Linked DNA regions of Homo sapiens: regions 2 and 3 are each linked to region 1. Evidence: fine-mapped expression QTL. A gene starts in region 1. Each other region holds a variant in brackets. All regions are shown on one strand. Distances are from middle to middle. Region 1 holds the start of LINC01719 (long intergenic non-protein coding RNA 1719). Region 2 holds the start of HJV (hemojuvelin BMP co-receptor). Region 3 has its middle 7.4 kb from the start of HJV.

Evidence for each region. PIP is the estimated chance that this variant, and not a neighbour inherited with it, causes the effect.
Region 2: its variant is the best candidate, but not a certain one, in a credible set for the expression of LINC01719 in amygdala (GTEx, PIP 0.51).
Region 3: its variant is the best candidate, but not a certain one, in a credible set for the expression of LINC01719 in T cells (TOPMed, PIP 0.70).

The regions. Positions count from the first base shown.
Region 1 is chr1:146,050,204-146,054,446 of GRCh38, forward strand. LINC01719 (long intergenic non-protein coding RNA 1719) reads left to right here and starts at 2,393. Exons shown (of 3, transcript NR_125968.1): 1 at 2,393-2,745. It overlaps RNVU1-6 (RNA, variant U1 small nuclear 6), which reads right to left and starts at 2,041; the gene lies at 1,878-2,041. RefSeq lists enhancers at 1,251-1,979, 1,980-2,711 and a silencer at 1,891-2,130.
Region 2 is chr1:146,021,148-146,025,390 of GRCh38, forward strand. HJV (hemojuvelin BMP co-receptor) reads right to left here and starts at 588. Exons shown (of 4, transcript NM_213653.4): 1 at 440-588. The variant A/G (reference allele first, on the strand shown) is at 2,143.
Region 3 is chr1:146,012,262-146,016,504 of GRCh38, forward strand. No RefSeq gene overlaps it. Among named protein-coding and RNA genes, the nearest start is that of HJV, 7.4 kb to the right of the region's middle. The variant G/A (reference allele first, on the strand shown) is at 2,067.

The DNA.
Region 1 (4,243 bases):
AATACATTTGGGTGTATATTAACCAAAACTTTTCTTGAGAATTCTCCTCTTCCATCACCCTAGCTAGCACATTCATTAATAATTAACTTTTAGAAATCTCAATATTTAGGTTACAGGAAAGCAAATATGGAATGTGATCTATCTAGCTAAAAAAGGAGTGAACATCATTCAAAGACAAAGACTTTATCCTGTTGGGGAAAGGGTTGGCATATTTTCACTGAATGAGAAAAAGTATGATTTTCATATTGTCTTTATTTGAACCTTAAGTATGATTTTACAAGGAGGAAAAAGGAGGAGGAAGAAGCAAAAGAAGAGGAAGAGGAGGAAAAAAAGAAGAGGAGGAAGATGTACATTGATGCCACTTTGAGAAGAAGTGGACTGTGGTGGATTTGTAATGTATCAGTTTTGCCAAGCTGAATGCACATTTCCCAGATTTGCCATCTTTAGATAGCTCTAGGTTAGCCTGGGCAACAGGAGACACTTGGAAGATAGAATTCGAGTGGCTGTTACACTCTTTTGTATACTGGGAAGGGCGTTGTTACAGCTCAGGCATGATCTTCAGCTTCCCTGACCCTTGGACTGGTGGGTGTTTTGCTTCTTGATCTAACATTAAGGTTAGAAGTTGCAGGATTCCAGCAGGGTTTTGTCACATCCAATCTGGTTTAAGTTCTCATATTATTAGGAAAGCTTTAGGGTGCTTCAGGAAAACGCTTTTTAAAAAATCAAATTTGGAAAATATCAAATGGAATTATAGGCAATAAGCATAACCCAGTGGAACCATGAATCAAACCCTCTAGAGCAGGGTTGTCTAAATTTTGGCTTCCTTGGGCCACACTGGAAAAAAAAAAAAGACACTTGTCTTGGGCCAAACATAATATACACTAATCGCAATTGAACTGTACCTGTAAAGCTTGTAAACAAAATGTGTCTGTAAAGTCTGTAAACAGGCCAGGTGCGGTGGCTCAGGCCTGTAATCCCAACATTTTGGGAGGCCGCGAGGCAGGCGGAAAACTTGAGGTCAGGAGTTCAAGACCAGGGTGGCCAACATGGTGAAACCCTGTCACTCTTTTTTTTTTTTTTTTTTTTTGAGACGGAGTCTCACTCTGTCGCCCAGGCTGGAGTGCAGTGGTGCGATCTCAGCTCACTGCAACCTCTGCCTCCCGGGTTCAAGCGATTCTCTTGCCTCAGCCTCCTGAGTAGCTGGGACTACAGGCACGTGCCACCACACCCGGCTAATTTTTTTTTTTTGTATTTTTATTAGAGATGGGGTTTCACTGTGTTAGCCAGGATGGTCTTGACCTCCTGACCTCATGATCCACCCGCTTCCGCCTCCCAAAGTGCTGGGATTACAGGCGCGAGCCAGTGCGCCCGGCCCGGTGAAACCATGTCTCTACTAAAAATTCAAAAAATTAGCCGGACCTAATTTTTTGGTTGCCTGAGCCTGTAATGCCAGTTACTCGGGAGGCTGAGTATTCTCTGGTTGAGGAAGGAGAATAGCTTGAACGCAGGAGGCAAAGGTTGCAGTAAGGCGAGATCGCGCCATACACTCCAGCGGACTGTTTGCTGTTAATCCCATAGGGAAAAGAAAAGCTTAGTTTTATTTCTATAGAACAACAACAAAAAAAGATAAGAGATTAGTAGAGACGGGTTCACTATATTTGCCCACACACGCCTGAGGTCGAGCGATATTAACATAAACATAACCTATCGACGTACCTCATAGATTGCTGGGATTACAAACGTGAGAACCACGATGTCCCAAATTTTTAGTTTCAGTGAAGTTACAGATGGGAACAAAGACCTGATTCTCAGCTTACGCTGACGCCCAGTATGCGTTTCTGCAGCAAACAAAACCTATTTTTAAAACGACAAAAATACAGGGGAAAGCGCGAATGCAGTCTACCACTGCCACAAATTATACAGTCAAGTTTCCCACATTTGGGGAAACTGCAGGGGTCAGCAGATCCGGAGTGCAATGGATAAGACTCGCTCTGGAAAAACCACCTTCGTGACCAGGGTATCTCTCCTGCCAGGTAAGTATGAGTTATTGCACCTCCGCCCCGCCGGCAGCCTCACACGCTTCACCCTTTACACGCACGGTCACTTGCCCCGCGCACACCCCCCTCCCCCCCAGCCCTCCTAGCCCTGACACACAGCTGGGACTCTCAGGTCCGACCAGCGGTCCTGAACCCGCTCCCACGGCACGGGAACTCCTTCGTGGCGAAGCAGCATGTGGCGAAGCAGCAGCCCCTGCGCTGGCTCATCTACATAGAAGTCGCCCTATCCGTGATGTCACCGACAGCGCCTTTCCCAGTCCCCGTCTGCCTTTCTGCCGCTCAGCCGACCAACCCGCTGCCGGAGCCGGCAAGGGGAAGTGACGTCTGCCTCTCCCTTTTTTCTCTCCTGCTTCCCTCATCTGTTCTCTTCCAAAGAAGCTGGTCCTTAGCCTGTATTGCGGAGCAAGCTTTCGGCGACCAGCTGGACCCTGGGCACCCTTCTTCGAACAATGGCTTTTAATTCTCAGACTAGAACGTTTAGGATTACAAAAGAAACTGGTTCTTTTCACATTCTTATTCTTGTGATGTAGCATTCCGCATATATATATATATATATATATATATATATATATATATGTATCCAACTATCCTAAAAGACACTACCCTTCATCATTCCATGCCATTAGACATGTATAGGACCATGCATGGTGATCTCCTCCAGACAAAAGTAAATGCTGGTGCAGAACAGGTAAGTGTACTATAATTTGAGTACATCAGCTTTTGGGCATTTTAAACCATGGGTCAGACAAGTTAGAGCAAGAGGGCAGGTTGATAGCAAGAGGGAGTGTTTTTCTTTTAATTTTCTTTTTTTTTGTTTTGAGACGGAGTCTCGCGCTCTTCGCTCAGGCTGGAGTGCAGTGGGGCTATCTCGGCTCACTGCAAGCTCCGCCTCCCGGGTTCACGCCATTCTCCTGCCTCAGCCTCCCCAGTAGCTGGGATTACAGGCACCTGCCACCACGTCCGGCTAATTTTTTGTATTTTTAGTAGAGATGGGGTTTCACTCTGTTAGCCAGGATGGTCTCGATCTCCTGACCTTGTGATCCGCCCACCTCGGCCTCCCAAAGTGCTGGGATTACAGGCGTGAGCCACCGCGCCCGGCTTCTTTTAATTTTCAAATAGCAAAGTGATGTTTGCCACTGTCATTTCAGAATGAGGTGACAATTTGTTGTTGTTTGGTTTTGTGGGGTTTTTTGTTTGTTTGTTTGTTTCTGAGACAAGGTCTCACTGTCGCCCAGGTTGGAGTACAGTGGCATGATCAGGGTTTACTTCTGCCTTGACCTCACGAATTCAAGCAAACCTCCTTACTAATCCTCCCAAGTAGCTGGGACTACAGGTGCATGACACCACACCCTGGGGTGTGAACTGGGATTTGATGTTTTCAGTTGGCTCCCTGATGGAATAGGTTCCCTTACTATTCTGGAATACAGATTGTCTTCATGATTATGATTCATAATCATAATGATTATGACAGCAGTCCCTGCTGTCAGGCAGGGACGTTTAAGTCTGCAGAAGCTGTCTGCTGCCTTTTATTCAGATATGCCCTGCCCCCAGAGGTGGAATCTAGAGGCAGTAGGCCTTGCTGAGCTGCAGTGGGCTCTACCCAGTTCGAGCTTCCCTACCACTTTATTTACACTGTGACCATAGAACCACATACTCAAGCCTCAGCAGTGGCAGAACCCCCTCCCCCTGCCATGCTCCAGTGTCACAGGTTGATCTCAGACTGCTGTGCTAGCAGCAGGCAAGGCTCCATGGGCATGGGACCTGCCGAGCCAGGCACAAGAGGGAATCTCCTGGTCTGTCGGTTGCAAAGACAGTGGAAAAAAGCACAGTATTTGGGCAGGGGTGTACTGCTTCTCGAGGTACAGTCACTCACAGCTTCCCTTGGCTAGGAAAAAGAAATCCCCCAACCCCTTGCACTTCCCGGGTGAGGCGACACCCCACCCTGCTTTGGCTCATCCTCCGTGGGCTGCATCCACTGTCCAACGAGTCCCAGTGAGATGAACCAGGTACCTCAGTTGGAAATGCAGAAATCACCTGTCTTCTGCGTCTATCTCACTTGAAGCTGTAGACCGGAGCTGTTCCTATTCAGCCATCTTGGAAGCAACCCTCTTTTTCTTTTTGTATTTTGGTAGAGACAGGGTTTCACCATATTGCCCAGGCTGGTTTCAAACTCCTGAGGTCAAGCC
Region 2 (4,243 bases), 29 kb before region 1:
CTAGAGTTGTGGGGAGAAATCATTTACAGGGAGCAGCCCCCATGCTTGGAATCTCAATGTGAAGGGCATTGCTAAGTGGGGGCAGGATAGAAGGGTATCAGTGACTCATCATCTGAGGTCATATTTGGCCTTGGTAAGAAAACTACAGAATAGAGGACGTAGGGAACTCCTTCTAAAACTTCATCAGGAGTCTTGAGGTAATAAGGTAAAGAGAGGGCTAAGACTGCCAGAGGAGAGACAGAGAATTAAACTTCAAAAAGCTAGAGGCCAGAGGCCAGAAAGAAATAAGACAGAAAGAGAAATGGAGATTGGGGCACCTTGGTAGGGAGAGATCCCAGCATTTGGACGAGAGACATCCAAGTAGGTGTTTGTAATTTTATAAAAGTCTAACTTCAATATAAAAGCTTATTAAAGGAATTGCAATTTCATTTTGACTTACTGTTTCCAGAGGTCAAACATTACTCTGCTATCCAATTCTCCAGCCATGATTCCCTACTCTGTGGGTCAGCTCCAGCCAGGGGGTCCTCCGTGTCTCCCCCAGGTCCCCAGGCCGGCTGCTGTCTCACTGAGGTCAGGGAACCAGAGAAGGTTTGGTATGGGGGGAAGGGGGAGTATATGGCTGGCCAGAGTACTGGACAGCTGAGCAGGGAGGGAGGTGGCTACTGAGTTGACGGTTTTAAAAATAGCTAAGTCCAAAATTCCAGGAACGTTGGTGGGGGTAGGGTGTGGGAGTTGGGGGAGTGGGGAGGGTTAGAGGATTAGAAAGAATATGGAGTATTGAGTGCCAAGTCAGGGAGGGAGGAGAGAAATATGACAGACAAGTTGGATATCCAATTCCAGCTTGTGTGACTCTGTGGTCACTGCCTACTCCAGGCAGCCCTCCAGCATTTTCAATAATGTTGAGCTCCTGGCCTTTAAAAATTACAGTGGGCAATTGGATACCTTTCATTTACCATGTTCATCCCTGCTATGCTGAATATTACATTTAGGTTCTACAGATAGTATCTAGGAGGTAGCTGACTTTGAATAAGATCCATAGCAGAGGTAGTTCATAGCCCCTCTCCTATCTTTGCAGAGTATTTCAGAAGGACGAAAAAAGCCAGCTGTCCAGAGAAGAAATCTGAGCTGTGAGTTGCTTAGGATGAGGGTTTGTTCAGTCTATCCAGCTCAGATCCTTGCAGCTGTCTATCCTCCTACCTACTCCATTTTCATTACTTTAGTTTGTACAGCAATTCATCTTCCTCTCCCTCATGAATACACAAAAAATAAAGGCTCCCGATTTGCTTGGAGAGAAGGCTAACAAAGGCAAAGAGGTGAAGAAAGAATGGAAATAGAATTCTTCTAAAGAAAGAGTTGGAGAAATAGAAAAAGATTCAAAAATATACTTTTCCTTCCTTCCTTCCTTCCTTCCTTCCTTCCTTCCTTCCTTCCTTCACTCCCTCCCTCCCTCCCTCCCTCCTTCCTTCCTTCCTTCCGAGATGAGGTCTCACTATGTTGACCAGGCTGGTCTTGAACTCCTTGCCTCAATGAATCCTTCCATCTCAGCCTCTCAGAGTGCTGGGATTACAAGTGTGAACCAACATGCCTAGCCTCAGAAAGATACTTTTATGGAATAACATAATCTTGTGACCATAAATATTGCAAAATCTCAGCACTTTGGGAGCTGAGGCAGGAGGGTCACTTGAGCGCAGGAGTTTGAGGCTGCAGTGAGCTATGATAACGCCATTGCACTCCAGCCTGGGCAACAGTGAGACCCGCCCCCCCACCCCCCTTAAAAAAGAAAAGAGATACTGCAACCAAGGGATTTAGCCATGTCATGTTTTTGCAGCCATAGGTATATCTGAGATCATCATCTTTTAGTACTTGCCAAGTGAAATTAACAGAAGGACCGATTCCAAATACGGTCACTGTATTAGGGTTCTCTAGAGGAACAGAACTAATAGGGCATATATCTATATCTGTATCTACCTCTATCTATATAGAGATCTATATCTATATCCATGTCTATCTATCTAGCCATCTAGACTGGCCATCACCAGTCTGCTTTCTGTCTCTCTAGATTTATTAATATCTATATAGATATGGATATCTATATAGGTAGATATATAAATAAAGGGGAATTTATTAAGTATTAACTTACAC[A/G]ATCACAGGGTCCCACAGTAGGCTGTCTGCAAGCTTGAGGGGCAAGGAGAGCCAGTCTCAGTCTCAAAATTGAAGAACTTGGAGTCTGATGTTCAAGGGCAGGAAGCATCCAGCATGGGAGAAATATGTAGGCTGGGAGGCTAGGCCAGTCTCTCCTTTCATATTTTTCTGCCTGCTTTTTATTCTAGCTGTGCTGGCAGTGAATTAGATTGTGCTCACCCAGATTAAGGGTGGATCTGCCTTTCCCAGCCCACTGACTCAAATGTTAATTTCTTTTGGCAACACCCTCACAGACACACCCAGGATCAATACTTTGTATCCTTCAATCCAATCAAATTGACACTCAGTAATAACCAACACAATCACTAAGCCATCTTTACCAGTTGGCTCTATTTTAATACAGAGTCTAGAGGCCCTCATAGCACTCTTCTCAGGTATATATATGACAAATATTTTTGTCAAATATATACTTCTCAGGTATATATATATGACAAATATTTCTCAACCATTAGAGGCCATATCACAAGCAGTTTCATTATAGAAATGTAAAATGCTTCTAACCAAACTATTCAAGTGACTTTAAAACATAATAATTTGACTATGACAGCCTAAGTGGGATATACTATAATGCCAGAAAATAAATGCAAAAATATTTTTAAATAGCCATATTATGGTGTTAGTGTTGGTATTGTTATTCTGAGATTATTTTAGTTATGAGATAAAACAAATGATTAATAATGTTAGTGTCTCTGAGAACCAGAATTTTTGGGGTGGAATAAAGAGATACATATTTACGATTGATGAAGTTAAGAGAAAACTCCGTAATTCTGAATTTAAATTGCAAATATAACTCTGAACTCATGGTTTATTTTATCCTTAAAATTTTCCTAGCTTTACCCTAAAAAGGCCTGGAAACAATGATCCAGTAAAAATAAACACCTCTAGTACTCAAATTGTGCTATGTAAATACCATTTTCTGTTAAAAGGGACCAACAAACAACTCCTTGGATAAGTGGCTGATTTCAGGTTTGGGGCAGGTATTGTCCAAGATAGGCAAGGAAGCTTTCAAAGAGTGTTAGGATTGTAATAAAAGAACTTAGGAGCCAACTAGAATAGTTCCCATTGGCCAAAGATGGGGCAATTTAAGTATCAAAATGGATACTATCTGCAATGGATTGAAATTCATAAAATATGTTTAAATCCATGAATTCACAATGATACTTAAAAATACAAACCCATTGGTCATTGTTGGAGAATGCTGGCAGATCAACTCATTATTTTAAAAACTGCTGGTAATTGGAAAGAATCAAGTATTTATCCTGGTTTTCTTTTGGGAACTGTATCTCAAGATGAGGGGGAAATTTCTCTTTATAGAAGCATTCCAGTAAATAATTGAAGAAGGGATAATATAATTAGAATATCAACATTTTGTAAATCCAAATGAATTAATATATCTAGGCAATGGTCAACAATGACTGTGGCAGGGCACAGTGGCTCACACCTGTAATCCCAGCATTTTGGGAGGCTGAGGTGGGAGGATTGCTTAAGCCCAGGAGTTCAAAACCAGCCTGGACAACATAGTAAGAGCCCATCTCTACGTAAACAAAAAAACAGTGGCTGTTATTCATCATGAAAACAGAGATAAACATGTTTTCCTGATCATAGAGTACATAACTCCACCTTGCATGAAGTAGCCATACCAAAAACAAACAAACAAACAAACAAACAAACAAACCAGTCTGAATCTGATTAGAGCTAACTACTAATTTACAGGAAATACAGGAGACATTAAGTGGTAACTCAAAGGTGCAAATTCAGACTTTGTGAATACTCTACAGGACAAATGACCTGGGTTCGTTCTTTCTTTTCTTTTTCTTTTGAGACAGGGTCTCCCTCTGTCACCCAGAGATCTCGGCTCACTGCAGCCTCTGCCACCTGGGTTCAAGTGATTCTCATGCCTCAGCCACCTGAGTAGCTAGGATTACAGGCATGTGTCATCACACTCAGCTAATTTTGTATTTTTAGTAGAGATGGGGTTTTGCCATGTTGGCCAGGCTGGTCTCGAACTCCTGGGCTCAAGTGATCCGCCCACCTTGGCCTT
Region 3 (4,243 bases), 38 kb before region 1:
AGGCTGAGGCATGAGAATTGTTTGAACCCGGGAGATGGAGGATAGAGTGAGCTGAGATTGGGCCACTGCACTCCAGTCTGGCGATACAGCGAGAGCGACAGAGCCTGCTTCATACCCCTTTGTAAGCCATCCCTCCTCCTCTCTGCCCATCCCTTAAGCAACCATTGAGCTCCTTTTCTCACTATATATGTGCTAACATTACATATATATTTTGAGAGGCTGAGGTGGATGGATCTCTTGAGGTCAGGAGTTTGAGACCAGCCTGACCAACATGGTGAAACCCATCTCTACTAAAAATACAAAAAGTAGACGGGCCTGGTGGTGCATGCCTGTAGTCGCAGCTACTTGGGAGGCTGAGGCAGGAGAATCGCTTGAACCCGGGATGCAGAGGTTGCAGTGAGCTGAGATTGCGCCACTGCACTCCAGCCTGGGCAACAGTGAGAGACTCTTGTCTCAAAAAAAAAAAAAAAAAAGGAAACAAAATAAATATTAGACATATCTACTCTCTTATGGTTATAGTAATTGAAATTTTAACTCTTACATCATGCTATATTCCCACCTTTCCTTTCCCCTTACCTCATCCTCCCAATAGAAAGTTATAGCATAGTTCTGGCTGAATCAATAGTCAGTGTTTACATTAGTATTACTGTGTAAATGATATCCATTGAGGAGCCAAGTAGTATATATTGATTGTTTCATGTCTTGAACAACCCTTTATTGTTAAATTATAATTTATTTAAAATTTTACTTTGTTTACTATGTACCTATCTTCAGTTTATTTCCTAAATGTCAATTCTGGCAAATGCCTATTAATATTTTCTTTCAAATGGTCAACATATCAGATAATCTTAGACGATAATTTTTCTTTTCCTGGAAACTTGCCTCATTGTCTGCCAAGTCACTTTTTAGTCACTAGCACCACCTGCTGACTCTTGGTGAAGTGGAAAGACAGAATTATGATTCACAGGGTTGATGTTCTTAAATCGGAAAATCTCCTTTCTGTGGTCTCTGACTTTGAGAATGACATTCTGGAGGAAGGAATGTGGTCCTTGTCATAGGAGTAGCGGAGAATATAAAATCACTAAATAAGGTCTTTCCTTTGTTCTGTTATCCTCTTCTTTTGTATGTTTCCTAGAAGAAGAAAAGTCTCTGTTGTAATCTTCCTTGTCATGCTATGGTCATTCTAAGCCTTTTGTCTGATCTACCAAGAAAAGAGAGAAAGATGTGCTACTCAATTAAAAAAAAAAAAAACTACAGCTTTATTGACGTATACTTGGTGTATGATAAATTGTACATATTTAAGGTGTGTCATTTCATGGGTTTTGACATATACAAATATATATATATATCCATGAAACCACTGTCACAATCAAAATGATGAACATATCTATCACCCCCATGAGTTTCGTCATGCCCCTTTGGGTTGTTTTGAGACAGAGTCTTGCTGTATCGCGTAGGCTGGAGTGCAGTCACGTGATGTCGGCTTTGTGCAACCTCCACCTCCTGGGTTCAAGCGATTCTTGTGCCTCAGCCTCCTGAGTAACTGGGATTTCAGGCTCATGCTACCACACCCAGTAGAGACAGGGCATTTTAGTGGAGACAGGGTTTTTAGTGGAGACAGGGTTTTTAGTAGAGACAGGGCTTTTTATTAGAGACAGGGTTCTGCCATGTTGGCCAGGCTGGTCTCAAACCCCTGGCTTCAAGTTATCCACCCTCCTAAGCCTCCCAAAATGCTGGGATTGCTGGTGTGAGCCACCGCATCCGGCCTACTTCATGCCCCTTTGTAAGCCATCCCTCCTTCACTCTGCCCATTCCTTAAGCAACCATTGATCACCTTTTCTCACTATATGTTTGCTAACATTTTATATATTTTTACAGTCCATGATCTGCTGAAGATTTTTAATAATTTGATATGAATGGAAGCAGATGGTATATACTCTTTTTTTTTTTTTGCGGGGCAACAGCTTTTTTCACTTGCATAATTACTTTGAGATTTATCCATGTTGTGTATATCAGGAATTAATTTCATTTTATTGCTGTGTATTCAATTATGTGAATTTACTGCA[G/A]TTGGTGTATCCATTCACCATTTCAACATTGAGTTGTTTCCAGTTTTTGGTTATTACAGATAAAACTGTTATAAGCATTTGTATATAAGTTTTTGTGCAGCACATGTTATCATTTCTCTTGGGTCAGTACCTAAGTTTGGAATGTCTGGTTTGTATGGTAAGTGTACACTTACCTTTTAACGAACTGCCAAACTGTTTTACAAAGTAGTTGTACCATTTTACATTCCCACCAACAGCACATGAAAGCTCCACATTTTCCTAACATTTTGTATTTTATTTAACAGTCTTTTCCATTTTAACCATTCTAGTGGGTATGTAGTATTTTTTCATTGTTGTTTTCATTTGATTTGTATTTCCCCAGTGACTAATGATGTTGAGCATCTTTTCATATGCTTATTTTGAGCTACCTATTTAAAAATGCTCCATTAATAATAGGGCTAGTTGGGCTGGGCATGGTGGCTCATGCCTATAATCCCAGCATTTTGGGAGGCTGAGGCGAGCAGATCACTTGAGGCCAGGAGTTCGAGACGTATCTGGTCTGCCATTTCAAATTTCTCCTGCAATTCTTTATCCTCTATTCCCTCCTCTCCACCTCTTTTAAGGACCACAGCCATTCTGCCATTCCCTCAAAGCACTGTCTCTATGCTTTCCAAAGTAACCTTTAGCTAATGGAGAAAATAATGTGTTGTAATGAAGAAAAAAAAATTGGGGGAAGAGACATATCCAGGGCTGTCTCTTCACTTCACAGAAAATATAGGTATTTTAACTCAAAACATCCTTTTGAAGAAATACTCTTTGTATTGGTTCTCTTAAAAGAGTAACTTTATCCCTCAGGTGTGGGAATTTCAAGTGAATTGAGAAGAATTTCGGCTGGGCGCGGTGGCGCACGCCTGTAATCCCAGCACTTTGGGAGGCCGAGGCGGGCGAATCACGAGGTCAGGAGATCGAGACCATCCTGGCCAACACGGTGAAACCCCGTCTCTACTAAAAATACAAAAAAATTAGCTGGGCGTGGTGGCGGGCGCCTGTAGTCCCAGCTACTCGGGACGCTCAGGCAGGAGAATGGCCTGAACCCGGGAGGCGGAGCTTGCAGTGAGCCGAGATTGCGAGATTGCGCCACTGCACTCCAGCCTGGGCGACAGAGCGAGACTCCGTCTCAAAAAAAAAAAAAAAAAAAAAAGAATTTCACAGCCAAGTGGTAAGTGAAATTCTTTGATGACACCTGTCATGTAATACTCTTCCTTCGCGCGGGCTTAGAGCTAGCCTTATTTACTTTTTTTTTTTTTTTTTTTTGAGACGGAGTCTCGCTCTGTCGCCCAGGCTGGAGTGCAGTGGCGCGATCTCCGCTCACGGCAAGCTCCGCCTCCGGGGTTCACGCCATTCTCCTGCCTCAGCTTCCCGAATAGCTGGGACTACAGGCTCCCACCAGCACACCTGGCTAATTTTTTGTATTTTTAGTAGAGATGGGGTTTCACCATGTTGGTCAGGCTGGTCTCAAACTCCTGACCTTGTGATCCACCCGCCTCAGCCTCCCAAAGTGCTGGGATTACAGGTGTGAGCCACTGCGCTCGGCTACTTCCCAAATATTTTCAGTGCGTGGTTGGTTGAATCTGTGGATGCAGAATTAGTAGATACAAAGGGCCCTACTGTAATATTTGTTCAGGGGAGTATTGTCGGGTGTCAGGGACTGAGAGGAGAGGTGGAAGATAATGGTGAGTACTTGATTAGGGCAGGGAGGACAGGTCCTCGGTTATGGAGTACCTGAGAGGGGAGGATGAGACCAGAAACAGGGAAGATATTAAATGTAAAAGTTACCTCCTTCATAATTTTGTTCAGAGCAGCATTGTTACTTTAGAGCACCCTCATCTAGAACAGCATTTCTTCTCAGTCTTTCTTCTACAAACTAGATTCCTTCAACTTTGGGCTTTCCCTCCTTTTCCAACTCTCTCTTTTTGGCTTTATATGAGAATATGAGAAGAGAGTAGTTGTTTTTTGTTTGATAGTCTCACTCTGTTGCCCAGGCTGGAGTGCAGTGGCGTGGTCTCAGCTCACTGCAACCTCTGCCTCCTGGCCCGGGTTCAAGCAATTCTCGATTCTCATGCCTCTGCCTCCTGAGTAGCTTGGATTACAGGATTACAGGCATGGACTATCATGCCTGGCAAATTTCTTGTATTTTT